7 separate regions of the Homo sapiens genome follow, and regions 1, 3, 4, 5, 6 and 7 are each linked to region 2. Evidence: fine-mapped expression QTL. A gene starts in region 2. Each other region holds a variant in brackets. All regions are shown on one strand. Distances are from middle to middle.

Region 1 (4,387 bases), 240 kb after region 2:
GAAAATAAGGCAGGCCAGACTCTGGAGAACAGCTCATTAATGGCCGAGCTCCTGAGCGATGTGCCGTTCACCCTGGCCCCGCATGTGCTGGCAGTACAGGGCACCATCACTGACCTTCCCGACCACTTACTCTCCTATGATGGCAGCGAAAACTTATCACGGTTTTGGTATGATTTCACTCTTGAAAATTCAGTGCTCTGTGATTCATAACCTTTATGTCTGTTTGCACCTTAACAGCTTTAAAATATGTTCGCCTATTTTATCTAACCTGTTTGATGTTCTTTGCCGTTTCACTGTTTAAGGTCCTCAGCAAGGATCATAAAGCAAAGAAAATAGCATTATGTTCACTACTCTATTTTTAAGAAAAAGGTACATTTGTATACAAATTGAACTTAAGTTCTACTTCCTTTCTCCCATATAATAAATATACAAATTAGGCTATGAAGGTTTTAGGAAAGGACTCGATTCCTTCAGATGGTCTCTCAAAATATAACACCTCAAATTTATCTTAGAAGAACTGTGAAAAAGAATTGTGGCATTTTTCAGTCACTACAGCTCCGAAGTCTGAGCAAGAAGTGGGTGTGAAGTCTCCTCTCTGGTTTGTAGGAAGTTGAATTGGTGTTATTCCTGCATTTTTTTCTTCCACAGTGTTTATGAATGAATTCAGAAAAAAAGTTGCCAGTTAGCTTAATTTCTTCAGATGCATTGATGTGGAAATTTAAAACTTGTCCTAAACAGCAGTGCTAGTTTGCTGATACAAGGATGCTAGACCTGCTCTGCGTGCTCTTTCTGGAGTGGCCCATTTCGGTTTTCTGAAACCCATGGCAGCCCTTTCCATCGTGAATAATCGTTGTGTTCCCACCTTTGTTCTCTGCCTTTTTGCTACTTCAGTGTGCTCTCTGACCAGCTTTCCAAAGAACTTTCCCTGCTTCTGCCTCGGTTGCCATTTGCTCTCCTTACCACATATGTTCCCAGTTTATGAAGAGATCCACATTTCCTTTCAACCCCTCTGCCTCCTGAAGAAAAACATCTCATGATGATACATATTATTGCTGATAACACCCTTATTTAGAAATTTGTTGGCCACAATAGAGATGGAAATGTTTTACTGCTGGAAAAACTGAAATCAACTCATTTCCAATTAGAGTATAGGCAGAACACCTAGATATGACTTTTAGTTCTTGAATATCCATTACTTACTTTAATGAAAACAGAACTGCCATTGGTCAATAAACTGTAAAGGGAAGAGGTAAATTGTGATAGAGAATTTTCTATGTCATGGGAAATTGAAATCACATTTATTTTGATTACCAGCAATATGATTTGTTAACTCTGTGCCAAGTTTTAAGTATATTTTTTCACAAAGATAGAGTGCCATAGTGAAACTAAACACTGTGCATAAAGGTACATGAATTATTCCAGTTTTAAAGTATTATGCATGTTTGTTTAATAAATGTGGCATGGTTTTAATACAAATGCTATGTTATTTAAAAGTTAGAGGAACATTTCTATTGACAAAAATATGCTTCATTTACATATAATGTTACCATATGGTGTTAATGATTAAATTAGATCTTTACATAGTTCTTACAAAGCATCAGTCTAGGAAATATGACTTATTACTGATGCAAACGTGAACATTTTGTAGTAGTTTTGTAAAAGAACATCCTTTTCAAATATCTGTGTTAATGTACCCTTGAAATTAAATGCAAGCACATAGTCAGTTTGTCTAATTTTGTGTGAAATTTTGTCGAAAATACCTAAACATTTCATCTATATTTGTGCCTACCATGTTATAAATGTTCATAAGTACCTTCATGTGTCTATAAAAAATGTTATATTTAAATAAATGTGAATTAAAATAAAATTTTTGATTATTTTCAGATCCAGAAAAATGGGTTTG[A/T]TTGCATTATTTATATCTGAATGCAAGTTGTTAATTCTTTAGGAGCCAAAAAGTTTAAGTATATAGTTTGTATAGTGCTGGGAAAAATATACGATTTCCTCTTACATGTAAGTTTTAAGGAATAACATTAAAAATGGTAAGATCCCTAGTCCTGGCTTAACAGGACTGGAGGGATTTGAGAGAGATGACATGAGCATTTCTAGATTGATACCATCATCACAACATTTAGTAAGGGCCAATGTTAATGATCTTCTTCTTTAAACAAAAATATTGTGAAAATTACCATTTAATTTTTTATTCTGTATATAAATTAATATTTCTATGAAACATTAGAAATCAATACGTCAACTTCATTTTACCCAAGATAAAATTGAAGCCTAGAAAGACTAAATGACTTAAATCACTTAGTGATAAATAAATGCCTACTTTAATAGTGTTAGTAATTATAATATATGATAACAAAGCTGTATGATATGGTGGGAGAGAGTTCAGGCAATTGAGGCAGCCAGACAGAGTTTGTAATGGCTCCCTCCTTTATAAGCTGTGGGGCTTTCAATCAGTCCCCTAACTTCTGGTGCCCTCAGTTCTCTCAATTGTGAAACACTAATTGTTCATAACTTGTAGCGTTGTGTTAAGTTATAGGTGGTGTATGTCAAATGCCTGGCAGCCTAAAGCCTTGCACATCATCGGTATTCTGGGAAAGGGATTGTTATAATTCTCGTTATTGACCATACACACACAATACTATAATGAAATGCAAAATACATATTAATTGAACTTCTTGAAGAGTAACATAAATAAAACAGCTACCTACGTTAACTGTAGATCCCCCTCCTTCCCAGTTATTTTTTTCCATATTAAATACCTTACTATGAGAAATATTCCTAAAATATGTTAGTTGACTGTTCTGCCTTAACTAAGAATTCCATAGTGAACATTTTTTTCTTTTTCTCGTTATTACAGTCTTTTTCCTAATATATGTTATTGTTGCAAAGTACTATAGATATGGAATGTGCAGGTGATTTTACTGAATCTTATTTATTTATTTGTGACAGAGTTTTGCTCTTGTCACCCAGGCTGGAATGCAATGGCATGATCTCGGCTCACTGCAACCTCCTCCTCCTGGGTTCAAGCGATTCTCTTGCCTCAGCCTCCCAAGTAGCTGCGATTACAGGTGCCTGCCACCATGCCTAATTTTTTTTTTTTTTTTTTTTAGTAGATACAGGGCTTCACCATGTTGACTAGGCTGGTCTCGAACTCCTGAGATGATCCACCCGCCTAGGCCTCCCAAATTGCTGGGATTACAGGCATGAGCCACTGTGCCCAGCCTTGAATCTTATTTTTAGCCCTAAAATATATTCAAGAACTTGCATGTATTTTTTTCCCAAGCTTTCTTTAAAGACATTTGCATTCTTTCCTAAAAACAGAATGAGAGAGGCGATTCTGACCAATTTATTATCCTGGCTAATTAAATTTTGATCAACTGAACTTTTAAAATTGTACCATTAAAATGTTAACAAAGCCACAATTTTTATTAACAATTGCAAATCAAATCCGTAATAGTTTTTTAAGGTAAATATTCATTGACGTCAACACTTATTTTTTTCTTCTCTTAAAGAAAAATGGTAAATTCAAAACAGTATGAAAAAATTCTTCTAAAATTCCCAGAGATTTCATTTCTCATAATTCTAAATGACAGATAAGGAGAAGCAAGGAAAGAATCTCACTCATGTTCTGAAACCGTAGTACATCAGACTACCTCTGTGCCTCCCATGGTAACAATTGATCAATAAGTGAACACTGCCCTCAGTAATCTAGCAAAGAATATGTTTCTTTCAGAGATTAGTGCGTTATCTTATTAATTATGTCAATAACTCACACAAAATATAAGTTTATTGGAAATGCAGTTGAAGGATGGTTTATCTTTTAAAGTTTTTGGGAAATACAGGTTTATTGACATTCTCTTTTGAGCATTTGTCCCATATTACTGAGGGCATGACCTAGGTATTATTGGGAAATCTAAAACTTTCAGAATAAGTCCAATTCCATTCATACTACAGTGGCTTGAAGGATTAAGTATTCTTATGTTTCAGGAAAAGGACTCTTTTTGCCATATGGTTTGGCAGATAGGCGTGTGTGGGAAAGAGAGAAAGAGGTATTGATTGACGCAGGGAACTCTGTTTCAGTCGATGTGACAATATGTCAGTCTTTTAAAAATTTAAATAAACTTTTTATTTTGGAATAGTTTTAGATTCACAGAAAAATTATGAAGGTACTACAGAGAGTTCCCACATACCCCTCACTTAGTTTCCCCTGTTGTTGACATGTCACGTAACTGCAGTACATTTGTCACAACCGAGGAATCAACACCGGTACATTGCAATTAACTACACTGCACACCCCGTTCAGATTTCATAGTTTTCCTCTAATGTCCTTTTTCTCCTTCAGCAGCCTACCTGGGATAGCACATTACATTTATTTAGT
Region 2 (4,324 bases):
AGACCAGCCTGAGGAACATAGGGAGATGCCATCTTTACAAAAAACAAAACAAAACAAAACAAAACAAAACAAAACAAAAATTAGCCAGGCATGGTTAAGCATGCCTGTAGTCCCAGCTACTGGGGAGGCTGACATGGGAGCAACTTGATCTTGGGAGGCTAAGGCTGCAGTGCGCCATGATGGTGCCACTGCATTCCACCCGGGGTAACAGAGTGAGACCCTGTCTCAAAACAAAAAAACAAAAACGAAACAAAAAACCTCTTGAGGAAGAAAAAAGCAACGTAAATTTTTCTTATGTGATTTTATGGTCTTTCATAAGGAATGAGAATTGTTATCCAACATTTATGGGATATGTTCAAAAATCATGACGCCCAAAAAATCATTGGTTAAAAATGTAAAAGGAAATATAATGAGAGAATAGTACAAGAATTAAATTTTACAGCCAGGGACGTTTTACCAGCTCATCCTTTTTAAATCCATTGCAAAAATTAGAAACATCGGCAACAAACCAAATCAAGATGAAGAATTAACTATAATATATAAGAGACTTATTAACACTTAAACATACGGGTTCCATCAACTCGATGGTTCCATTTTTTCCTTCTCCATCTGAAAGAATAAACATTTTTCCGGTGGGATGAATCTAAAAACGAAACATATAATTAAAATCTCACTAAAACAACAACAAAGTTTGACTAAAGATGAGTACATTGATCCTTAGTTGAGCACAAATCAACTGTTTCTTGAACAGTTTATTCATTCAGTTTATTCAACTTATTGGATCAAATTATAATCTTATGTTATCAAATCTGTTCATGGAACACACAGTTAATTTCTGAATTTCAGATAAACAAGGATTTTTTTTGTAGTGTTAAGTAGGTTCTGTATTTGCTAAATATGGCAACCCTATTCTGATAACAAATTAAAGGATGCCCACCCTAAAAGTGAAATCTGCTGGCACTCATGATTTAGACAGTACATATCCCACGGAGGGTATGTTTTAAAAAACAGGCATGATGAAGTAAAAGGAGAACTGGTTGCTAGAATATCTGGGTCCTACTCCTGGGAAGCAGCTGTAAAGAGCGCTGTCAGATTGCGTTTGAATGCCAGCTTTGCCATTTGCCGAGTTTCTGAGCATTTTAGTCAACCACCTACCACTCCTACTCAGTTTCCCTACTTGGGAAGTCAGAGCAACACTCATTTAAGGAAGAGGATGTGTGGATGAAATGAGCTACTAAATAAGTCTTTATATAATAGTTTTCTTTTCCTCAGCTTTTCAGGTCACTGATTCCAAGACTTTGGGCCTGTTTCTCGCCTGTAGAATGAGGGAACTTCACTTTAATACTGGGGTTAAATAACTCGTTACTACGGGACCCAAAGCGGACAACCAAGGCATGTTTTACAGAGAAGCGATCACAACGAGGAAACGAGGTTTGCAAAAATAAGTAATTTCAGAAGAGAAGGAAACCAGCAGATTAGTTTTGTCTGCGTCCGTCACGTCTGAGTAAACTAAGAAATCTGAAGGTAGATGTGGGAGTGGTGTTTATAATTTCCCTTACGTAAGCACGGCTAGAACGGAGGCGACGGGCACTGGAATTTAGAACTCAGCATTTGAAAACACTTTGTTTCCGTGCCATAAAAGAGCGCCAAAATGGGGCTACAACGGCTAAAGAATTTCCAAAAAGTTCCTTGTGCAAAATAAAGGAGTCGGGGGCGCAGTGATCGGAGGCTTTCCGTCCTTTTTCATCCCCCGTTATCCAGGCGGGGTCCCTCCCTCCAGCTACGGACTTGGGAGCCCATGATTGCGAACCCGCACACCTTTTCCAGCCTCCCTACGAAGCAGACAGGCTTGTCGATGAATTGAGCTAGCATGCCGGCGTTGATGCGCGACCTGGGCAAGTCCATCATGTCCACCATGATTATGGTCCAAGACTGCGGCTGGCGGGAAACCCACGGACGACTGAAACTGTGCGCCCCGCGGGTGTCTATGGGGCAGATTTCTCGGCACCAATCAGCGAAGACTAGCGCTCCAGCTTCGCCAATTAAATGCGCGGAAACCTAAATCGCAATCGCGCTGTCTCTGAAAGGGGTGGAGAAGGGGCTGGATGAGTCCGGAAGTGGAGATTGGCTGCTTAGTGACGCGCGGCGTCCCGGAAGTTGACAGATACAGGGCGAGAGGCAGTGGAGGCGGGACTTGGATAGGGGCGGAACCTGAGACTACCTTTCTGCGATCACAGGATTCCCGGCGGTGACTTGACCCCGGAAGTGGGGTGTGAAGCTCCGGTGCTGGTGCGGCGGGGGACTGCGGGGCCAGCCTCAGGTACCTCGTCTCGCGGGAGGCGCCGCAACCTTACTGTTTCCCCATTCTTCCCGCGAACAGAGTCAAAAGAGCTAGGCGGGAGTCGGCACTAGCTGCTGCCGCGGTGCTGTGGGTGCTGCGTACCAGCTGTTCACTGCTGTCTCGCCTTCCCTCTTGCCAGTTCTGCGTGGGAGGCGCGGGAGTTTTGCGGAATGATACGTGGTGTGGCGTCGGGGTTGTGATACCCGCCCCCTTGGAGATGGGCAGCGGGGTCATCAGTGATCTTGATCACTTTCTTCAGGCTTTTGCCACTTGTTGGCTGAGGGTCGATTTACTCCCTTAGCTGCGTCACTCTACTTTCTCCACTTTCTCCACCTGTAAGAAGAGAGATTGATCCGATTACTTCTAAGACGTTTTTTAGCCCAACCTGGCCACACTGCGGAGGCGCCGGTTCTTTCACCCCGCTAACCCCTCCGTGTTGGCAGCCAATAGAAGCACTTAAGGATGGGTAACGGGGAAGAACCACTGGCCAGTACTAGGGGAGACAAGCTTAAATCGTTGTTAGACCCCGAGCTAGGGTTCCCCGAGCTAGGGTTCTCCCTTCTGAGGCGTGTTTTCCCCATCTGCAAAACGAAGGGTTAGGCGGAATGATTTGCAAGGTCCCAGTTGACTCTGACTTTTGGCCATATGTTTGACTCAACAGTTTAAACCCCCTCAGCAGTCTTTCTGTCGTTGCCCTCCACACTGCGAGACTCTGGAGGGCGATCTGGAGGTCTGGAAGATAACCGATTCCTGGGAGATTTGGGGGTAGTCTCCAATCTGTCCCTGGCTCATCTTGTGACCCGAAGCCGGCGGCCTTGCCAGGAGTATTCTAGAATGAGTGCACATAAAAATACCTTCAAACGGTACGGTGGAAATTGGACAGAAGTTTTAATTGGGTATTATAACGTTGTGGAAACTGAGTCTGTGAATTGGCCCAAAGCTACAGAATTGTCATCGTTCAAATTCCCTTAAGCAAAAAAGATCCGATTTGAGACTTCACGTGGCAATTTAAGATTGGAATCTCATGTACGATAATTAAATGATAGTCTCCCTTAGTGTTTCCTTAGCACTTAATAGGTTTGTCTTAGTTTTACTCACTAACGGTACTTTAAAGGATTTCATTAAACAGATGTAGAATGTGTGTCAGTGGTGTATAAAAAAGTTGTGGTTGTATTGGTGCAAGTCAGTAAAGTCTATTTTATATTACAGCTTTAAGTCTTTTGTACTTTAGCATTGTTTTGCAAAGCAAGTTGATGTGCATTATATAGGGGAGAGTACACACATCAATGTCTTTAATAGCATTTTTTTTTGAGGCAAGATCTCTCTCTGTCACCCAGACTGGAGTGCAGTAGCATGCACATAGCTCACTGCAGCCTTTAACTCGTAGGCTTAAGCGATCCTCTCACCTCAGCCTGCCAAGTAGCTGGGACTATAAGCACATACCACCACACCCAGCTAATAAAGATTTTTTTTTTGTTGTTTGTTTTTTTTTGTTCAGATGGGGCCTCGCCATGTTGACCAGGCTTATCTCAAACTCCTGGGCTCAGGCGATCCCTCCCTCCCCCGTCTCCCTCCCAAAGTACTGGAATTACAGGTGTGAGCCTTGGTGCGTACCCTGTAATAGTGATTTTTTTTTTTTTTAAAGAGCACTCCTGTGAGTACCAGATGTTAATGTCGTTGTTTACCTGCAGTTAGAAAGACCACTTTTAAGCAAAGGCTTTCTTTTAAAACAGGGAGATGAGCAGGAAGATAATTTAAAACAGCTTTTTCGTGTATTTTTGAGTCACTTAAAATATTATAAAATACATGATGTACAGAAAAAAGTATAGCTAGCCGATTTGCATAGTTTTGAGAGAAATGAAATGAATCCATGGGGCCTGTCATTCAGCTGAAGAAATGGAACTTTACCAGTTACCAGTAAATTTTACCAGTTTGCACTTCCCCAATGAAGCCCTCCTTGCTACAGCCATAAGTAAACACTAT
Region 3 (4,387 bases), 110 kb after region 2:
GCAGTTTTCGTGTGCTAACTTGGAACTCACATACGTTTAAAGTCTTTCATTTCACACACGTTGCTTAAATATGTGCATGTAGTTTTTGCCTTAGCTACTGGCCTAATAAAAGCCTCTTGTGAATGCTTATCACCTTGTAAAGTAGTTACCAGAGCTACAGTAAAATTGGCCTGCAAGTGAAAAGGCTTTGACTTCCCTAGAGGAAGAATAAAAAACATATGAGACAAATAGCAGCAACTGAAATTATCTGGTGCAGAATGTGGCAGAATGCCAGCCAAATGCCCTGTCCCTCAGATGTTTCACACCTTTATCTTAATTCGCTAAAAAGGCCACCTTATTTAAAGAATTTCAAACACAACTTGAGAATGCCTTATTATTGGCTTTGACACAGTTTACACATACAATCCTGTTTCTTATTGCTATCTTCTGGTATTAAGGCCCTATAGATTTAAGAGATTTTAAAAAAATGTTTATATTTCTTTTAAGTGGAGTGCATGTTTGTGTGTGTGTGTGTGTGTGTGTGTGTGTGTGTCTGTGTGTATGTGTGTGAACTGTTATTGGAAGTTATTGCCATGTTTATTTTAGGCACTTCATATATCTAATTAGAAATGATGTTTATTGTTAAGTAGGCAAAGTTGCCTTCGAGTGCATGGTGAGAAATAGTAATGAGATACTTTAGCCATTAGGCCATGAAGACTTTTACCTAAATAATAGGGAAGGAATAAATCCTAGTATTGTTTTGGAGTTGCTACAGGAGAACAGAAATTGTTTAAACGAGAGAGTTTCAAAAGGCCCCACTACAGTTAAGTATATTTAATTTAATTAGGTAATCAGTATTATTCTTGCAACTATTAATGGCACCTCATTTGTTTAACACTTGCTATATCATAGAGCATTTCATACGTGCTACTTTATTTGGTCCTTTCAGAAATCCCTAGAACAAGGCAGGGCAAATGTTTCCATCTTGGTTCATGGATGAGGAAAACCAAGACTCAAAGATATGCAGTGACTTGGTCAAGGTCACAGAGTAGTAGAGGATGGCTCTCTTTCCATTACAGTGACAGTCAGAAAGCGTCAAATCTTAGGTTATCATGACACTTAGTAATTATGAAGTATATTTTTTCCAAGAAATAATAAGCCTTTTAGGCAATTGAAACTGCCGAGAAGGCTGCCAGAGGAGTAACTCAAAACAGAACAAACATGGAGGTTTTTGGTCCTTTCATCTCTAGCATTGAGTCCACTAGGTCAGGGTTTCAGGAAATGGGAAATCTTCATTGTTACCTGCTAGGTTGCCTTATTTCTCCATTTAATGGAAAACTTAGTCTTCATTATTTTCAGTTTAACAAATAATTTTCCTTAGAGGAAAAGAAAGTTTTGCCTGTATTTTGGGGAAAATGTATAGAAATTAAATCTAAATCATTGAATTATTAGATGATGTGCCATTTCTGAGCCAAAAAAGTAGGAAAACAATGCATAATCATCTAATAAAGTATATGTTTTATGATTATATATGTTTCTTGTTTTGTTTTGTTTACAGTGGCGTGATCTCGGCTCACTGCAACCTCCGCCTCCTGGGTTCAAACGATTCTCCTGCCTCAGCCTCCTGAGTAGCTGGGACTACAGGGGCCTGCCACCACGCCCAGCTAATTTTTTTTTTTTTTGTATTTTCAGTAGAGACGGGGTTTCACCATGTTGGCCAGGATGGTCTTGATCTCTTGACATCATGATCCGCCCGCCTCGGCCTCCCA[A/G]AGTCCTGGGATTACAGGCGTGAGCCACCGTGCCCGGCCTATATGTTTTATTTTATAAAGTTATATGTTTTATTATTTACTTTTTGTTATGTAATTGTTTATGTCATAAAATTATAATATAATAATTCCTTAAACCAAATTATATTCCATAAATTATAACATATGAATTCAATATGCATTTATAAAATAAAGATTTCTAGACATATGGTAGACTAACAGTGATATTTTGAAATCTACTTCTGCCACAGAACTAGATAACCATTTCCAGATTGGAATATAAATTAATCAATGTCTCATTGTTAGAGCTGCTGTAATTTTTTGAGGGGATCAAGTGAGGAAGGACTTATTTTTGGCTTAGATTTACATTTACAGCAAGGTTATCAACATTTTCCTGTGGTGGCACATTAATATTAATAATATAATCATAATGCCGATTTACACATTTACCAAATTCCCATCTATTACCTTCATTCCTGTTAAAATACAACCTATCATGTTGTTCTTTGGGGATGAGTAGTACATTTATAGACATATAAGTATATGTGTATATTTATATATTTGTATATATAAAAATTTAAAAAATTCTTTTATTTTTAGGAGCAAAAATTTGGGGAAAATAATGTAATATTTATCAGAAGGATACTTTAGGATTTAGCTCTATCAGCCAGGCAGGGTCATCAGTAAATCTAAGAACTGCCAAACTTCTCACACTCCTAATTCCCTCTTTTATCCCTCCTTTTCTGGCTGTGCTAGAGATATCCTATTACACATGATTTTCTTTTACTCTGGGCTCTTCTTCGCCCAGATCAGTGTGATTGCTTTGCATTGATTTCTGTATTTGCTTAAAAAAAATTTCCCTTGATAATGTTTTTAAACTTTCTAGCATGAGCCTTTCCATACTTGGTATTGGTGTTTTATAATAGATTTGAGGACAGGTTTGTGGGGGATTCCATAACAAATTCAATTTATCAGTTACTTCTTTTTAATGTTAAAATAACTGCAACAATTCCACAATAAATAGAGTGAAATTTGATGTGCTAAATTAATTTAAATGGTTTTGACACATTTTCCTTGAAGGACTCTTTTCTAGGTTTTTATAATCTCACCTCAGTGAGAGTACAGTATGGTTTAATTACTTTCCAGCAGTGCACACTTTAATAGCCCGTATTCCACGTGAAAGCTATGTGTCTTCTGTGGGTTTGAACTGTTTCTGCCTAATCCAAGGAAAAATATTTGAGGAACATTAGTTAATGCCTTTTCCAGGAATGGGAGTGGGTAAGCGTTTTTTTCATGGCTTATAGAATATTTAGCAATTTTAGCTTCCAGTACTTAATTTTATAGTGTTCTCAGTACTGGTGGCAAAGGCTTCCTTCAGAAAAGTGAGAAATTATGTGAATTCCCCTCTTGGCATGCTTAGGAGGGCAAGTCATGAATCTTTACTCTCATATTTTTCTAAAATAAAACTGGGCGTTGATATTTGCTGTGATCTAATATGTAGATATGATGAAAAGATTTATAAAATAGCATATATTGAGATTTTTGTATGTTCTCATAAAAGGTGCTATAAATTGAAACATTTATTACACAGAAAACGTCTAAGATAAGAGTATTATTTTCCAGGATAGTTTATCTAAGTTCTGTAAAACTTTTAATAATGTAAGTAACTACTAATGAAAGGACGTTATGTGTCACATTTGCATTCATAAATATCCATGAAGGATCTCTTTCACCAATGTTATTCAGTCTCAGTCCAAGACAAGGTCAGACATTGATTATGTTTGACATCTTAACAAAAGTGAATAGGGAAGATAAATATTCTTAATTATACTGCTAGAATGGTGAGAAGCAGTGGTCTATAATGTAAGGAGGAATATTAGCAAAATAGAATTATGGTCAATTGCAATTATAATAACTTCTATGCATTAAGTATCTTCTACTACATATTAGCTCTTTATATATGTCTTATATAATGTAATTTTAACTAATATCTTAAGAAGTCTAGGTAGTATTTATACCCATTTGCCCAAATCTGGAAACGGAGTTTCCAAAAAATTAAATAAATTCCTTAAAACTGCCCAGCTAGAGTCCATTTCACATCTGTCAGGCTCTACTAAGCTGCTTGTCAGTCTTTGACTTCCTCATTATCAGAGATAGATATGGTATTGATAATGTACAAATTGTTTATTTGGCCCAGAAATGTGTTTGTGCTTTTAAATTTGAACTAATTGTCTTTGGCAGTTTGAAATGTACAATACTTGATGGAAAATAATAAAACTCCACTCCAATTAGAATAACTACCTGATTTCTTGATTATAGCTTCTTTAATGACGGCCCATTTTATATTATACACGGTTTCATATTTTTCTTATATTTAACAAACACATATACAACACTACTGTGTGTAAGGCACTGTTCTAAGTAGTTACAAACATGAATTCATGTAATCCTCACCAGTATACTTATGAGGTAGGCATTATTTTATCCCCATTTTACAAATAAGATAAATGAGGCACAGAGAGGTTAAGTAACTTGCTCAAAATCACACAGCTAGAACATGGCGGAGCTGAGATATAAACCCAGTCAGTTTGGCTGCAGAGTGCTCTTAACTGTATGTATTTTTCAGATGTTTCAGAATTTGG
Region 4 (4,387 bases), 140 kb after region 2:
TCCTCAGAATAGTCTGTAAGCCAGGGCTGTTGGTTATTAAAATACATTTTTTCTCTTATCAAAATCAAAGGAATTAATTATTTCTCATGACTGTAGAATTGGAATATGACAACTTGAGAATCCTATCTTTTGTAGAATAGAATAGAAGTTGTTTTTTTTTTTTTTTCTAAAAGAGAAATTCAGATGCTGCACGGTTTGTGTCTTTGGGTGTTTGCTGAGCTACGAGGCTGGGAAGTGAGAATCAGAATGGACAATCAGGACACTGTATTCAGATTTCACTTATAAAATGGGTTTGGAAATGAGGATGAAGGGCACTAGCCAAAATAATCTCAAAGGCTGCTTCCAGGTCTTAACTACCAAGATTTGTAGCTTAAAAACGAACTATTGGGAATTATAGAGGTAAACTGATGTGCTTTCATTAGAGAGGCGTAAAACTGGTTCTAAGTCCTTAAAAGAAAGTAGAAACAAAGCACCAAAGCCAGAAACAATTACACCAGCAGAATACTTAAAAACTAACAACAAAAAACTGTTTTCATAGGCACCCTGTTATACGCGGTAATGCAGTTTGTTTTGTACAATGTTATAAAATGATCAGTATACTGTACTTCTGGTTAAGCAAAATAAGACCAAAGACTGACACGGTATGCTGTCTACTCTAATTCAGTACATTCACCAAAAGGAGATGAAATTAAAGATGAAGAAGAAATTAAAGAATTAAGGAAGAAATTAAAGATGATAAATGGATCCAGTTTGCCTATGGCAAACTGATAGTATGCCATTCTGAAGGTGGATATTGCTTATGAAGAAAATTTTGAGTGAATTGTTTCCTTTTATAATTGTATTAGAAGAAGTGTGGATCTTGACTGTAGACAGACTTTAGTTTAAATATGGCTCTGCTATTTAGGAGTTTTGTGACACTGGGAACTTTTTAAACTCTCTTTTGTTATTTGCTTCACTTATTAAATCAGCAAAATCATTCCTACTTAATAAAGTTATTGGAAAGAGCTTATTATAAGGAGTTTGTCCCCTTTCATGAAATTTTCAAGGAAATTGTGATTTCCATGACTTAAAATTTTCTACTTAAAATCTCTGTTTTTTTTTTTTTTTTGAGACAGAGTCTTGCTCTGTCACCCAGGCTGGAGTGCAGTGGTGCTACCTTGGCTCACTGCAAGCTCCGCCTCCCGGGTTCACGCCCTTCTCCTGCCTCAGCCTCCCGAGTAGCTGGGGCTACAGGCACCTGCCACCATGCCCGGCTAATTTTTTGTATTTTTTTTTTTTTTAAGTAGAGATGAGGTTTCACTGTGTTAGCCAGGATGGTCTCGATCTTCTGACCTCGTGATCCGCCCTCCTCGGCGTCCCAGAGTGCTGGGATTACAGGCGTGAGCCACCGTGCCCGGCCTACTTAAAATCTTTTGAGGAAAAGTGCTATATCAGAAAATAAACAAGACCAACCCAGTTACATATTACCATATCATCTGAATATGTTTTACATTAGCTTCTGCCCTTCCTTCTTTTTTTTTTTTTTTTTTTTTTTGAGACGGAGTCTTGCTGTGTCGCCCAGGCTGGAGTGCAGTGGCGCGATCTCGGCTCGCTGCAGGCTCCGCCCCCTGGGGTTCACGCCATTCTCCTGCCTCAGCCTCCCGAGTAGCTGGGACTACAGGCGCCCGCCACCTCGCCCGGCTAATTTTTTGTATTTTTAGTAGAGACGGGGTTTCACC[G/A]TGTCCTTCCTTCTTAGAAAGGTTCCCTAATTGTCTGAACTGTGTTGGAGATTTCGTGGCATGTGTAGTATTTGTGGAGAACTTTTCCTGTATGGTCATTTCCAAGTGTCTAAAGAATCTGGTATCAGTCCTTCAGATTTTAGCGGGTTAAGAGAAAAAGACACCAATAAATCAAGTAGGCATAGAATTTTGTATAAGAAGTGAATCTGGGTATGGTAAAAAGTTGTGATAGAATGAAAACTTTCTGAACAGTGGTTTGGGAGAAATGCAGTAAGACTTTTAAGAAGTCAATCATTCATTTACTCATTGAATATTTCTTCAATATTGATTGTGTGTTCAGTGGAAAGAGGTGACATGGAATGGGGAAGAATGTTCAAGACACACAGAGTAGCACACCTGAACGGAAGCAGATTTGAGGATCTGAAAGTTGTTTTATGATTGGAGTGTAGAGTTGGAACCGAAGGGATGAAAAGGGATGAGAGAGTTAGTCAGGGGACCGATCATCCTGGACTTACAAGCCATGAAAAGGAATTTGACCTTTATCCTAAGCACAATAGGGGCCATAAAATAATTGTGGGATGGGGCAAAGGCCAGGTCTGTGTTAAGAAAGAGTAGGAGAATGGATTGAAGGAAGGAGAACAAGTAGAGGAAGGGAGATTGATTGCGTGGCCGCTTGTGGAAATCACAGAAATCATGGTAGCCTAAACTTGAGTAGAGTCAGTGGCTTTAGAAAGCTGAACGTGGAGGCCAGCATACAAAAGAGCCAGCTAGCTGACTGACATGATGTGGGGAGTGAGGGAGGAAGAGGAAGCAGGGCAATTGGTGATGCTTTTTCTTCCTTGACACAAAGAGTACCTAGGAGGAGAAGGTGAAAGGGGTAAAGGATTAGTTCCATTTTAGTTGGTGGGTTAAAGGAACTTGTGAGATGTATCTATCAATATATTTATCTGTGTACCTATCTGTATATCATATTCATGTATTCTAATCATCCTAACTACTCCTCTCATTTATTTTTTATTTTGAAATAATTTCAAACTTAAAAGGTCACAAAAACAGTACAAAGTGCTTTTTGTTTTTTTGGAATCTTTTGAGAGTAAATTGACAATATGATGTCTCATTACTTTCCAATACCTGAGTGTGCATTTCATAAAAGCAAGGGCATCTCCTACATTTACGTTTTGTCCCAGTGATGTCCTTTACAGCAAAAGGATCCAGTCTAGAATCACATGTTGCATTTACTCGGGATGTCTCTTTAATTTCCCTCCATCTTGAATGGTTCCTCAGTGTTTCCATGACCTTCAATATCTAGACATTTTTGAAAATCACAAGCTAATTATTTTGTAAAATATCCCTCAATTTGAGTTTGTCTGACATGTTTTGCAATTAGATGCAGGTTATGATTCAGGAATTTTTGCTAGGAATATCACAATAATTATGTGTTCTTTTCATTGCAGTCTATCAGGTGGTGCACAGCTCCTGTTCGTTACATTACTGAAAATGTCAACCATCATCATTTACTAATTTTGCTATGAGATGGGGAGGTAGATGCGTAGTGTACAGATCAGCTGATGGTTTACAGAAGAGTAAACATTCAGAATTCCCTCCCACCCCCCGTAAGCCTTGTTCAGAGAAATATTTTTTACATAATAACTGTAGTCTTTACTGTTATTATAATTTGGATTATTGCCCACTGAATTTATTATCAGTTTAGTGCAGAAGAGAAATACTTTGCTCTTGCCTTAGATTGAAAGGCTCTCCCTGTTGCCACTGTGCTCTGGTTTCCAGATGCCTTGCTCTCACTGGGATTGATGTGCTTTCTCACAGAGTGAAGAGAGAACCTGACAGCCATAGGAGGAGGAAGGTTTGCCTCACTTTAAGTCCGGATGTGGTTAAAGCATGGGAGTGGGAGAAGAGAAGGGATTTGACTGAGACAAGTTGATTTGAGTGAAGCCGCTACTCTTAGACAACTTTGCGTAAAACAGCTGGTTAGTTAATATGTTTCTCTTTTATTCCATGCTAGTCCTCCAAGCCTTAAAACAACTTATTAGAGATTAGAATTTTTAAAATCTGTTTTGCAATAAGGCACGTGTCCAGTTGAATTCTAATTTCACTAAACCTGCCCCCTAGAAAACTGCTGAACTTATTTGAAAACACTGAGTCATGATGATATAAATATATGATGGGGATTTAATGAAGTAGGTCTAATTTCAAGAATATCTAATTTATGAAACCAAGCAGTACTGTGGAATTTGTTGGTAATTAGAAATACAGGTTTAAAGTATATAAACCATATATGATTTTCATAACTTTAAAGGAGTAAATGTTTTTACTCTTTAACCAGTCTTGATATTAGTGATTCCTTCTTTACAAACTGAAATGACTCCAGATTTTTTGAAACAGTACTGTTGTTTTTAGAGGAATTAAAAAATATATTGCAAGTTTGCTGCCATGTGTTTCTAGTATAGTACTGCTTTGAAAATATAGGTGTTTAAAATTAATCAAATACATATTAGCAACCTTTAAAATACAGCATTGAATACAATATGATAAATAAAATTACTTTATCAAAACTCCTTTGGAGTCTCAGCCAACTTTTATATTTCATGTTATTTACCTCAAACTCCATTGTAACTATGCAGAACCCAGTAAAATCTCTTTTCTTTCTCCTT
Region 5 (4,387 bases), 230 kb after region 2:
TGTAATGTTGCACTATAGCCAACAGTTAAGAGATAGATGCTGGAGTAATACTTACAGCACAGCTGAAATTCACATCATCCTAGGAGGCATTTGGTGGAACACTTTGCCCATCGTATTGTTAAACTAATTTTTAAAAACTTAATTATGAAAAATTTTCAAGCTTATACAAAGGTGGAAAGAATACTATAGTGCATTCCCACTTACCTTCATGTCTGTTTCAATAATTATCAACTCACAGACAATTTTTCACTGTCCACGGTGTTTTTCCCATGGTCTTATCCAGACTGCTGGTAGATTCATTTCCAGGGATAAATATATCTTAAACTAGAGTTGCTTTTCCATCCTTCTTCAGCCTGTCTGTAAGATCTGTCACCTTAATGATTTTCTCAGTCCTTTCTTCTTTAAGGTACAAAATATTAGCATCTTTTTTCTTCCTAAATTAAGCCAAGATATGCTACTTTAATAACTGTTATATTTTCTAATGCTGTACCCTAAAATTGTTGAAGCACTGTTCATTCAGTCAATCATTCTATCCAAAGCATGTCTGAAATGTGCAGGATCTTGGAATATAGAGCTTTAATGGTCATTGGGTTTGATTATCAGTTTCACCACTGACAAGCTGTGTAATCTGGGACAACTTCCTTAACCTCTCTGTGCCTCAGTTTCCTCTTGTCTTTAATACGGGACTAATAGGAGCACATACCCTTACAAGGCTGTTGTAAGACTTAAATGAGCAAATACATTTAAACAGCTTAGATACAGCCTGACACAGTGTTCCGTATATGCTAGTTGCTGTCTTGTCATCATTGTCATCCTAGTTGTCTTCATCATCTTCATCTTTTGTCCCTCTTCACTCATTTTACATAATAGTGGGTTGAGGCTCAAATGGGTAAAGCAACCCCCTTCAGGTCAGATGGCAGTTTTATCAGGATAACTTGAATGAGAAAGCATGTCCCAATTTTTTTACTGTACTAGATATAGTTTGATACATTCTTGTCCTCAAGGAATTACGTTCTCACAAATAACAGAGAATTGTCAAAAAAAAAAAAGAGGATTAATAAAAATATGAGGAATAAATATTGCTGCTGGAGAGTTAAGCCTTAGGCACTGCGTGTTTCAAGAGGAAGAGAGAGAACCTCAGCTGCTGGGGAGTCCTTGCCACACTCAGTCTCCCACCACATCAAGAATCTCCCCTCCGCAGTTCCATGCAGACCTCCGAAAGAGGAGGGGGCCTTCATGTCCCATCAGTAAAGTCTGCTCTACTCAGCCATAAAAAAATAAAAAATAAAAAATAAAAAAAAAAAGAAGTTGTGTGTTTAGAAAGCAAAATGCTACAGGTAATGTACAGGCATACCTCGAAGATATTTCGGGTTCAGTTCTACATCACTGCAGTAAAGTGAAAATTGCATTAAAGTGAGCCACATAAATTTTTTTGTTTCCCACTACATATAAAAGTTATGCTTACACTATATTGTCATCTATTAAGTGTGCAATAGCAGTATGTCTAAACAAATGTACATGTCTTAATTAAAAGTATACTGAGCTGTCTCAGGGAAGTCTGAGGAGAGGCAGATAGGGGAATGGCCAACTAGTTGGTGGAACAATCAGAACACACACAACATTTATCAGTTAAATTTGTCATCTTACATGGGCATGGTTCGTGGCACTGCAAAACAAATACAATAATAGCATCAAAGATCACTGATCATGCCTCACCAAAGCAGATAGAATAACGAAAAAATTTGAAATATTGTGGGAATTATAATAATGTGACATAGACACACAAAGTGAGCACATGCTGCTGGATAAATGACTCCAGTAGACTTACTTGATGCAGGGTTGCCACAAACCTTCAATTTGTAAAAAATGGAGTATCTATGAAGTACCGTAAAGCAAAGTGCAATAAAAGAATGTATGCCTATACCTCCACTTTAGTGCAGAATGTGGGATGTCAGGAATGCTTTTGTTTAAAAAAGGAGATGATTTCGCTAATGAAACTCTAGAACATTCTATACACAACCAAAAAAGAAAAGAAAGTTTGAGTGGGATGAGACTACCAGATCTAGGGAACATTTACACATGAGATTAAGAGAGAAAGCAAGAAATAAAAGGAGAGGGAAAGGTATTATTTGAACTACCAGTGAGTGTCAAAAGAGATGAATGGATTCTAAACTTCATCTAAACCCAAATGGGATCTGGCATTTCTAAAATGTTATTTATTCACTTACTTTAACCTGTGCCGAGCACTGTTCTGCTTACTTATAAATATAACTTTATTTAATCCTTGCATTTAACAATCCTATGAAATAGCTAACTGTTATCAATCTCATAATACAGCTAAGGAAACTGAGGCACGGAGAAGTTAAATATTTTGCCCAAGGCCATTTGCTTATTAATAAACAAGAGACCTGGGATTTATACCAAGCAGCGTGGTTCTGGAATCTGTGCTCCTAACCACTTTGTTCTCCTGCTCACAGGTGATCAAAGCCCCGGTGCATATGGAATCTTGAGGTTTTATGGTGCACCCAAACGTTGCTTCCCTTTCAGTTTTTCTATATAAACCAGTGTATAGAGAAGCCCTTTAAAGAGAATAGAATGGTGGTGTCATTACTCATACCTGCACTCTTGGCTGACCCGAGGAT[A/C]ATTAGCATGGTGAGTCCCAATTAGATTTCAGGAGACAGGATCTGCCCACTGCAGATGTACATCTTTATAACAAGCTTTATCATAATAGAGTATGATTACATTTGTTAGTTGCAGTCCTAAAACAGTACTCTGGTGTTATTTTCACATGAAATTATAAGACCACTCTTATAGGCATGTGCTTTTTAACTTTACTAATTCGAGGTCATCCACTAAAAAATATTTCTTGATGGCCTCTGTTTTAGGTATTGGAGATGCTTTGTGACGAGTTCCTTCTCTATAAATTCTCTATGGATTTTTTCCTTTCTTATGAGCTGTTTCTTATTAGCTTATAAATTGTCATTATTTCTCCCAACTTGAAAAACAAAAATCAAAAGAAACTTTTCTTGACTACACATCCCTTTTTAACTACTGGCCCATATATGTTTCTTCATTTACATCGTAACACCTAGAAAATACTGTCTGTTCTAATTTTCTCTCCACTTTCTCCACCAGATCTCGTCCAGCTGCAGATTCAAATTATATCCCCCTGCCTACTAACAGCTCCACCTGATGTCCGCTAGGCACTGAAACTTCCAAAACCCAACTCTTGATCTTCCCACCCATTCCTGCTCTCTGGTACTCTTTCCCATCCCTATAATTGGTGATTCCATGTGTCTCATCGCTCAGGCCAAGAGCTTTGGCTTTATCCTTAACTGTGCTCTTGTTCTCATATCCCCACCGTCCATTCCATCAGCAAATTGTGTTCCTTTTACCCTTAAAGTCTATCCAAAATCCAACCATTTTATCTCACCTTTGCTATCCCTGCTCTAATCGACTTCATAAGTAATCTGTCATTCCCAGCTATCTTCCCACTTCTTTCCCCGGCCACCCCACCTCTACTATCTGCTGTCAACCCAGCAACCAGGGTGATTATTTTAAAACATCAGTCAGAATATATCACCTTTCCAACAATATGTTCTTCAAGATTTTTTTCATCTAACATGCAACAATTTAGATGAATCTCATCCACATAATGTTGAGTAAAAGAAGCCAGAAGCAAGAGTTCATACTGTATGATTGCATTCATTTAAAATACAAAATCAGGCCGGGCACAGTGGCTCACGCCTGTAATCCCAGCACTTTGGGAGGCTGAGGAGGGTGGATCACCTGAGCTCAAGAGTTCGAGACCAGCCTAGCCAACATGGTGAAACCCTGTTTCTACTAAAAATACAAAAAGTAGCTGGACATTCCAGCCTGGGTGACAAGAGCAAAACTCTGTCTCAAAATAATACATAAATAAATTAATTAATTAAAAAACAAAACCAGGTAAAACCAATTCTGTGTTGTTAGAAATAAGGATAGTGATTGACAGGACGGGGGTTGATTGTGACTGCAAGAGAACACCAGGAGGGCTTCTGGGGGCTGGTCTTTTCTATTTCCTGATCTGGGCGCTGGTTGCTCATGTGTATTCAGTTTGTAAAAATTTAGCAAGTTACACCCTTATGAAGTATTTTGTATTTTTAGTACAGACGGGGTTTCTCCATGTTGGTCAGGCTGGTCTCGAACTCCCGACCTCAGGTGATCTGCCCACCTTAACCTCCCAAAGTGCTGGGATTACAGGCGTGAGCCACCGTGCCCGGCCCAGAAAATTATTCTTCTCCTTTAGACTTACAGTCTAAGAATTTGTCAGCATTTATAACCATTAGCATTTATAACCAAAGACACAACGTACCAGAATCTCTGGGACACAGCTAAAGCAGTGTGT
Region 6 (4,387 bases), 250 kb after region 2:
AGATTTGTCTGTCAAATATGTACTCCAGACCTACTACTACTCCTGCTTCAGTCCCGGTCTTTATCATTTCACCCAACTGATCTCCCTACATCCAGTTAAGCCTCCCTCCCATCCATCCTCTACTCTAAAGCCAGATGAAATATATTAAGAAATACAGATAAATTCCTCAGGGCTTCTGTGGTGTCTCTGGAAAATTGAGGCATTTTAAGGCAAACAAGGGCCCCCCACCTGCCTCTCCAGCCTCCGCAAATGATATTGCAATTCATATATTCTGTGTTCTTGCCCTATTGAGCAATGCCCTGCGCCATTTAACATGCCATAATTTCTTTGATTATCCTTATATTCTATTTCCTTTCCCTGGAATGCCCTGACCTTCCCTTCTTCACCCAGCTAAATCCTATTACAAGACTTTTTTTTTCTGTATCATCTCCTCTAGGAGTCTTCCTTTATTTTTGCTGAGCTGCACTGATCTCTTTCCATGTTTTTGTGCTAACCTGTGCTCCCCTCTTTGAAGGTTCTTGATCCATAGTATTGTAATTGTTTGTTCCCTGTCTGATTCATAACTCTGAATTGATACCAACATATAGACTTCTGTGCTTAACATGATGCCTGACATACAGCGTGTGCTCGGTAAAATTTGTCCAGTAGGTGAATGATTGAGTCACTATTGATTCAAGGAAATACATGAGTTTATATGCCATCTATATTAGACTATTAGATGTTGCCCTTGTGTCTGTGTTGGAAGCCTTTAAGGAAACCTTTCAGATATCCCTATTAGAATATGCTACATTTCTTTAATGCTCCCAAACATATCTTGTATTCTAAATAAATTAGCTTTTTAAATTTCTACCCCTTTTGTTTGGTGACCTGTATCAGCATTAATACAATAAAGACATTTTATATTTATTATAATCTTTCAGACAGTGTTAAGTCTTCAGATTAAATTTTTGGGATGTAAGTTACTATGAATCTATGTATTAATATTATTATTTTAGACACAGGGTCTTGCTCTGTTGCTCCCAGGCTGGAGTGCAGTGGTGTGATAATAGCTCACTGCAGACTCCAAATTCCTGGGCTCAAGTGATCCTCCTACCTCAGCTTCCCCAGTGGCTGAGACTATAGGCACCTGCCACCATGCCTGGCTAATATTTTAATTTTTGTAGAGATGGGATCTCACTTTATTGCCCAGGCTGGTCATGAACTCCTGGCTTTAAGCAATCCTCCTGCTTTAGCCTCCCAAAGTACTAGGATTATAGGCATTGAGCCACCATGGCTGGCTGGATCTATGTATTATAACTTCAGTTTTATTTTTTGGTTTACTTTATTTTTTATTTTATTTTATTTTTTTGAAACGGAGTCTCACTTACTCTGTAGACCAGGCAAGAGTTCAGTGGTGCAATCTCAGCTTACTGCAACCTCTGCTTCCCAGGTTCAAGTGATTCTCCCACCTCAGCCTCCCAAAGTGCTGGGATTACAGGTGTGAGCCACCGCGCCCAGCTAATTTTTTGTGTGTGTTTTTAGCATAGACGGGCTTTCCCCAAGTTGGCCAAGGTGGTCTCAGACTCCTGACAAGTGATCCACCCACCTCGGCCTCCCAAAGTGCTGGGATTACAGGCGTGAGCCACCGTGCCTAGCCTATTTTTTTGGCTTATTTTAATATCTACCTGGGAAGACCTTTCTTCCTCCTTCTATTAAATTAACATTATTTAATGCCAATTAAGTTACATGGCTCTTTTCAAAGCATGGACTTGAATAGATTTAAATATGTACCATAAAATGGAATACCTGATTTTTTAATGGGCTGTAGCATTTTGTTTTTATGTAATCTAACCTTACTGAAGGATTTGGAAATGTTAACCCTTTTGGTGATGGCCCATATTGAAAGATAAGCTCATTTTGCTTTTGAGGAAAAATAACAATTATTTGAGAAAGGAAAACCACAATTTCGATTTTTCATGCAATCAAAACAGGTTCTAAAATATTCTTTAACTGGTCCATTTATTTGATAGCCAGTTTACTGACTGAATTTAACTTTTTAATTTCTGTAATGGATTATAATGATTTTGTGCACTATTAGTTAACTGAATTTCTAACTAGTGTGGTTACCACATTAGTTATTGCAACCTCTTCATGGGTCCCCTTCTCTCCCAAGATGCAAGTGCAGGTATGCAATACATCATTTTCAATAAATGGGGAATAGTAGCCAATCTCTTAAAACTTTGATTTAGCCAAGAAGAAGAAGGAGGAGGAGGAGGAGGAGGGGGAGGGGGAGGGGAGGGGGAGGGGGAGGAGGAGGAGGAGAAGAAACCCTGTTGTTGGTTAACAAAATTCTCATTTCTGTTACCTAAATAACAAGTTGCAAATACTTTGTAACATCAAGAAGTCATACAATTTTTCATTAGAAAGAGTTTCAGCAAAAATAGCCTCCAGAACTTAAAAACAAATTCTTTTTTTTTTCTTGAGACGGAGTCTTGCACTGGCACCCAGGCTGGAGTGCAGTGGCGCAATCTCGGCTCACTGCAAGCTCCGCCTCCCGGGTTCACGCCATGCTCCTGCCTCAGCCTCCCGAGTAGCTGGGACTACAGGCGCCCGCCACCATGGCCAG[G/C]TAAATTTTTTTTGTATTTGTAGTAGAGACGGGGGTTTCACCGTGTTAGCCAGGATGGTCTCGATTTCCTGACCTCGTGATCCGCCCGCCTCGGCCTCCCAAAGTGCTGGGATTACAGGCGTGAGCCACCGCGCCCGGCCTTTTGACTAAAATGCTAGATTAAATTAGTGTCAGGGGTCAATAGTTTCTTCTTTTCCAAATTGAAAGACTACCTGCTGAAACTCTCTATACCCACCTTAGGTTTCCCACTTGAGTAATTTTAAGCAACTCTTAAGTTTCTACGCTTGGCAATATTTAACTATCAGAGAGTGGTTGTAGGAATTAAACCCCCTTTAAGCAAACCAGTTGTCTTCTGGGTGTAGGTTATTTCCATTCAGGCTTGTTTCCATTGGGGCTTTTCTAGTATATGTAGAGATACACCTGAGGCATGATTTCTTTTTTATGTGGATTGTGATAAGGGCCTCATTTCCCAGTGAAATTTCTAACCACTCTAGGGGGCGAGACCACTGGGCTTGCTGCTTTTGTTGTGTTGAAGTACAGCAAATGTGATATCCTTCAGCCTGGGTGTGCTTTCTTATGCTTGTTAAATACAGAGTGCCAGAAAATGTACCCTAAGCATGACAAAACATAATACACAAAAGACAAGTTCTGTATCCTTAGCACTTTTCATTCTAGAGTCTAATATTACAGGTAGCAGTAACAGTATCAAGTTGACCACCAAAGACAGGTTTGATCATCATGAAATGCCAAGTAAGTGAGCCAGTTTAAATGAAAGTCAGGGAAGGAGGTGATTCAGAGGCCAAGCACTGGTTATTCAGAGCATCCAAGAAAATTTGTTGGGGCTAGTTTATTATTTTTTTAATTACCTTGCCTGGAGTGTGTGATTTATAATGCAACAAGATATAGAAAGAATGGACAAATGGACAGGGGTGGTGGTGATAAAACAGAATGCAAAGCTGCAGCACCTAGACATGAAGCCATATTCTCGTCACTAGCCTGGAAATAATGAACTATTGAGTACATGTCTCCTTTTTGGCCCCATTCTCACTATTGAACCTTATTTCCCACAGGGCCCAGTCAAGCCAACCTCTTTTACACCTACTCATTCCTTATCTCCTTTCTGGTGCCATGTCACTCCTCTGTTGATGGTATTGCTCCCTCTTTTGGTCTTATATCCTGCCTGCACACATACTAACGCTCACTGCAGCTCCGTTTTCAGCCCCCTCATGAATGTGTTCTCCAGGAATGGCCGACACATGTCATCTCAGAGCCCCTCTGGCTCTGGCATTCGGATTTTCCCACTGTTTCTTCCACTTGTTTTCTCACAATATTGTGTGATGAATCTTAACTCTCTAAGTACATTGTAAGATATGTAAGGGCAAGCTGATTATGATTTTATGTAATAAAACACATTGCACACAGCAGGTGCTCAATGAATATCTGACTTCCAAACATTATTGGAGTTGTTGGATCTCAAATGATTGACCGCCTATGTTAGTGTCAAAGGTCTTCAATGCCGAAGTAAGATGTGTTATCACCACTGTCACTAGAGGGGGATTACCTTCCCTCCTCCCCACCTCTTTCCCACTCCCTGTTTAAATGTGTTCTTTAGTATATGCTCCTTCCCCTAAAGCAGATCCTCTCCCAGAGATGCACCTCTTATAATCAAAGTTTTGAAGCTCACGATTGATTGTAGAACTATTTCATCATCATTAGAAATGGTTAAGTGCTGCCCCTTTTCTTCTTTGTCATTTAACAATTTAATTATGTGTCACTTCAGCT
Region 7 (4,387 bases), 80 kb after region 2:
GGTGAAGTGGGGGAAATGTATGTGTGTTTTAAAGCTTCCCAAGTGATTTTGACCATCAGTTAAGTTTAGAAACCACTGATTACAATTAATTTCCTTAGAATTTGCTCATATATTTAATTCCAAAGAGGAAGAAAATTGAAATTTTAAAAAACATATGAGTATTTTTGGAGATGACATAACTTTCCTTTTATTGTGTTAAAAAAAGCTTTAAGAACTGTTTTTTTCTGCATTTTTATTAATTATCAAGATTTAGTGATGGTTTAGAGAGCTAAAAACACCTTTAGGGTGAATTCAGAAGATCTAGCAGATACAATGATGAAATATGATCAGCAAGCTTTAGGAGAGGATAACAAATGTGTGATTTTGAAATCTCTTCTATTTGAAACCAATCCAGAGTCTTGAATTTGATCCAGTATATAGTATGCTACAAATGGAAAGATTAAACTGGAGCAATATAATTAGGGTAAGCCATTGCATCTGCACTTGTATCGCAGCAACTGAATTTGAAACCAGCTGCAAAATGGTGACTAATCTCTCTGGCAAGCCCACATGAGAGTGTAGTACAATAAGCCAGCTTCAGCCTCATGAGCACATGTTTCTTCAACTTGCCTCTGAGCAGGTGATGGTGATGATGCAATCTGATTATACTTTTGAATGTATTCTAACCACAGTCAACAGTAGAGTCTCACAAGGGATTTCACAAAAGACTTCAAACCGACTGTATATTTTTCAGAGAGTTGAGCTATAGACAGCCATGGAAAGTAGTAGTTTTTTTTTTCACGTTAGTGACTACTGTACTTTGCAGTACTTTATAATCTTAAGTTTAGGAGGCTTTAGTTTTCATATGTGAACTGAAGATGAGAAGAATAATGTGGAAAGAAAGTACTTGTACTTGGAGCTTTTATTCTGAATTGTTCACAACAACTTACACTGATCAATTAAAATAATTAAATTGTCTAGACTATTTAATTCTGTACAAACAAGAGATGGTAAATCAGTGTACTGTGTTTAAGTGGTACACTAACCTTTCCATATTCAGAGAAGTACCTCCCTGGGTCTTGAACATTAAAGGTGTTTAATAAGTACTCAGTTTGACTTGGACTTGAGCCTTTATTTTTGAAGGGAATAAAGTTTCTTCTTCCAGTGTACCTCAGAGGGACTTGGTAAGCATGAATAAAGCCATCTGTTTGAAAATGTATGTCATTTTTGGAAAAGTGCTACAGAACCTAAAATACAGTCACAAGTATTATTTCAAATGTATAGTTCAGAAGTAGAATACTTAGAAATTGCTTGTTAATCTTAATTGTAAATAGCTAAAAAAAATATAGCTTGCAATAAAGGACACAAGAGCATTAAAATATAAAAGTCACAAACTATACATCTCTGAGAATAAAGGGGGAAATGGGATGTAAAAACCCTAGGCTGGTGGCACTCACAGTTGGTATACAGCAGAATGACTTTGGCTGCTTGTCAGAAGCGAATAACCCTGGGCCTCTTCCCCATCACTTCTGATTTTATAGGTTTGGAGTGTGTCCCAGGCATCTGTGTTTTTAATCATTTCCCCCCCTAACTTACTCTCCCCATCTAAACTTGAGAAACACCCAGACTACTGTAGTATTATGGTACTATAGACTACTGAGTATTAGTACAGTACTATAGTGCTGACTAGTAAGCTTCCTAATTGCCAAACAAAAGAAAAATTTTCACTGTCATCAAAAGAAATAAACTTTCTTCATGGTAATTATAAAAAGACTTTTTGAGAAAAAAAAGCATCTTCAATAGTGATTTTGTAGAAGAAGCCAATTTGTTTTTTTGTGTATTTTTATTTAAACATTTTTATTAAAACAAGGGGCATTTTACTGAAGAATTAAGAGCCTTCAGTGAAGGCTAAGTGCAGGTGTGCTGCCTTCTAGTAATCCAGACTAGGTGGTTAGTATGAGTTATGGGTTGAATTCTGTCCCCCCAAAAAGGTATATTTAAGACTTCACCCCCAGTACCTATGAATGTGACCTTATTTTGAAATA[T/G]AATCTGTTTGCAGATGGAATCAAGTTAAGATGAGGTCATACTCATTGGAGTGGGCCCTCCTCCTTCACTGACTGATGTCCTTATAAGAAGAGGGAAATTTGGACACAGGGAGACACAGAGGAGAAATGGCCATGTGAGAGAGGCAGAGATCGAAATGATGCCACCACAAGCCAAGGGACACCAAGGATTGCAAGAAACCACCAGAGCTAGGAAGAGGCAAGGAAGGATTCTGCCCTAGAGACTTCAGAGAGAGCTTAGCCCTACTGACAACTTGATTGACGATTTCTAGTCTCCAGAAATGTGACAGAATAAATTTCTGTTGTGTTAAGCCACCACGTTTGTACCATTTTGCTATGGCAGCTTTAGGAAACTAATACAGTATGTGAATCTCTTTTTCTGTCATTTGGATTTTTGACAAGTTTCTTTTCTCACATATTCCATATGTGTGCAGAGGTTCATGAGCTCTGGACCTGTCATTGTGGTCAAATTTGAATTCTACTTTAAATGTTAAGGCACCTGCGTGAAAACCACACTACTGCTGCATAATTGTGAGCCGTAGGGGATACTGCCATTAGGAGCCATTTTTCCTTAAAAGGAAGCTCATGCATTTGAATAAGTAGTAAATGGTGATGGCAGAGTTATGTTTCATAAAATATGGAGGAGACTTTTGTCATCAGCAGGAACTGTCACTTTTATGATCTTCTACTGGAATGAAAACTCACTTCCACCCCAGGAAAGATCTCTGCAGAGGCAGTGAATCAATCTCTGTGCTGCCTCTTCCTCCTCCTTGATCTTTTTTGTGATTGTCCATGAGGATTTTGCTACCTGCCCTCTCAGGGATTTTACTGAACTCCCCATCTGTGATGGTTAATACTGAGTGTCAACTTGATTGGATTGAAGGATGCAAAGTATTGATCCTGGGTGTGTCTGTGTGGGTGTTTTCAAAGGAGATTAATATTTGAGTCAGTGGGTTGGGAAAGGCAGACCCACCCTTAATCTGGATGGGCACTATCTAATCAGCTGCCCGCTTGGCTGGGATATAAAGCAGGCAGGAAAACGTGAAAAGGCTAGACTGGCTTAGCCTCCTAGCCTACATCTTTTCCCATGCTGGATGCTTCCTGTCCTTGAACATTGGACTGTAAGTTCTTCGGCTTTGGGACTTGGACTGGCTTCCTTGCTCCTCAGCCTGCAGACGGCCTATTGTGGGTCTTGTGATCATGTGAGTTTAATACTCCTTAATAAACTCTCTCTCTCTCTCTATATATATATATGTATATATATGTATATCTATATATCTATATAGATATATAGATATATACTATTAGTTCTGTCCCTCCAGTGAACCCTGACTAATATAGATTTTGGTACGAGGAGTGGTTCTAGAGGAACAGAATATTAAGGATGGAGTTCCTTCGTTGGTTTTGGGGATTCTGGAGTTGGCTGCTTAATATGATTAGACCCAATAATGCGAAGGACTCTACTTCTAATGGTATAGAGAACACTGATAGTCCTTGGCATGAACTGTTTAGACAGTTATGCAAAATAAATGCATTTGACACTCCTGATTTACCGCCCATGTGAGACAAGGGGTTTAGTGACTCTGTACATAATACCTTAGGCTGTATGTGGAGAACTAAGGAATGTAATGAAGTTGGTTGGTTGCTCCTAAGTTCACTGGACAAAGTGATGAAGGAAAATGATGAATTCAGGGATTCTGACTCCTGGCTACAGAAGCATATACTGAGCCTTAAATCTCCTAAGACTGCCCTCAGTGAGAGTCTTACCTCCTGTAGAGAAAGAGCTGAAATTGTGGCAAAACAGACACAAGCTCTTATCATGTGGGTGGCTGACCTGTAATGGAAGGTGCATGCACAGCCTCACCAGGTGTCTACTGTTAAAGTGAAGGCATTGATTGGAAAAGAATGGGACCCTGCAACTTGGAATGGGGACGTGTGGGAGGACCCTGATGAAGCTGGGGACACTGAGCTTGTAAACCCTGATCAATCTTTTTTGCCAGAAGAAACAGCTTCTCCATCCCCAGTATTGGCAACATTCCCTCTCCAACCGATGCTGCCATCAGCCTTTCCACCTTTGTCTGAGGAGATAAACCCTGCACTGCCTGAGGCAACAGTGATGGCCTCCCCTGAGCAGTTGCCAGGCAAGATAATGTTGATTCTCCTCAGGAGCCACTGCCAACATCCCTGTTTGCTTCTAGAGCTATAACTAGACTAAAGTCCTGGTGGGCCCCTAGAGGCAAGGTTCAGAGTGTGACCCATGAGGAGGTGTGCTACACTTGAGAAGAACTGCTTAAATTTTTCAGTTTACATAAGCAGAAATCTGGAGAACAGGCGTGGGAATTGAT

Evidence for each region.
Region 1: its variant is fine-mapped to the expression of UMAD1 in whole blood (TOPMed, PIP 0.93).
Region 3: its variant is fine-mapped to the expression of UMAD1 in subcutaneous fat (GTEx, PIP above 0.99).
Region 4: its variant is fine-mapped to the expression of UMAD1 in whole blood (INTERVAL, PIP 0.98).
Region 5: its variant is fine-mapped to the expression of UMAD1 in whole blood (INTERVAL, PIP 0.94).
Region 6: its variant is fine-mapped to the expression of UMAD1 in whole blood (TOPMed, PIP above 0.99).
Region 7: its variant is fine-mapped to the expression of UMAD1 in whole blood (TOPMed, PIP above 0.99).

Annotation. Positions count from the first base shown.
Region 1 is chr7:7,877,329-7,881,715 of GRCh38, forward strand. UMAD1 (UBAP1-MVB12-associated (UMA) domain containing 1) reads left to right here. Exons shown (of 4, transcript NM_001302348.2): 4 at 1-1,895. The coding sequence ends at 210. All of the region lies in intron 3 of LOC124901586 (a long non-coding RNA gene), which reads right to left. Among named protein-coding and RNA genes, the nearest start is that of GLCCI1-DT, 89 kb to the right of the region's middle. The variant A/T (reference allele first, on the strand shown) is at 1,904.
Region 2 is chr7:7,638,502-7,642,825 of GRCh38, forward strand. UMAD1 (UBAP1-MVB12-associated (UMA) domain containing 1) reads left to right here and starts at 2,251. Exons shown (of 4, transcript NM_001302348.2): 1 at 2,251-2,320. It overlaps RPA3 (replication protein A3), which reads right to left. Exons shown (of 8, transcript NM_002947.5): 5 at 1,819-2,674; 6 at 569-643. The coding sequence starts at 1,917. RefSeq lists enhancers at 1,432-1,481, 1,852-1,901, 2,172-2,371, 2,412-2,461, 2,542-2,711 and a silencer at 1,942-2,071.
Region 3 is chr7:7,746,457-7,750,843 of GRCh38, forward strand. The region is part of intron 2 of UMAD1 (UBAP1-MVB12-associated (UMA) domain containing 1); the gene reads left to right. Among named protein-coding and RNA genes, the nearest start is that of RPA3, 30 kb to the left of the region's middle. The variant A/G (reference allele first, on the strand shown) is at 1,749.
Region 4 is chr7:7,783,246-7,787,632 of GRCh38, forward strand. All of the region lies in intron 2 of UMAD1 (UBAP1-MVB12-associated (UMA) domain containing 1), which reads left to right. Among named protein-coding and RNA genes, the nearest start is that of RPA3, 67 kb to the left of the region's middle. The variant G/A (reference allele first, on the strand shown) is at 1,719.
Region 5 is chr7:7,870,810-7,875,196 of GRCh38, forward strand. The region is part of intron 3 of UMAD1 (UBAP1-MVB12-associated (UMA) domain containing 1); the gene reads left to right. It overlaps LOC124901586 (a long non-coding RNA gene), which reads right to left. Exons shown (of 4, transcript XR_007060206.1): 4 at 1-434. Among named protein-coding and RNA genes, the nearest start is that of GLCCI1-DT, 96 kb to the right of the region's middle. The variant A/C (reference allele first, on the strand shown) is at 2,643.
Region 6 is chr7:7,886,625-7,891,011 of GRCh38, forward strand. The region is part of intron 3 of LOC124901586 (a long non-coding RNA gene); the gene reads right to left. Among named protein-coding and RNA genes, the nearest start is that of GLCCI1-DT, 80 kb to the right of the region's middle. The variant G/C (reference allele first, on the strand shown) is at 2,606.
Region 7 is chr7:7,718,875-7,723,261 of GRCh38, forward strand. The region is part of intron 2 of UMAD1 (UBAP1-MVB12-associated (UMA) domain containing 1); the gene reads left to right. Among named protein-coding and RNA genes, the nearest start is that of RPA3, 2.5 kb to the left of the region's middle. The variant T/G (reference allele first, on the strand shown) is at 2,025.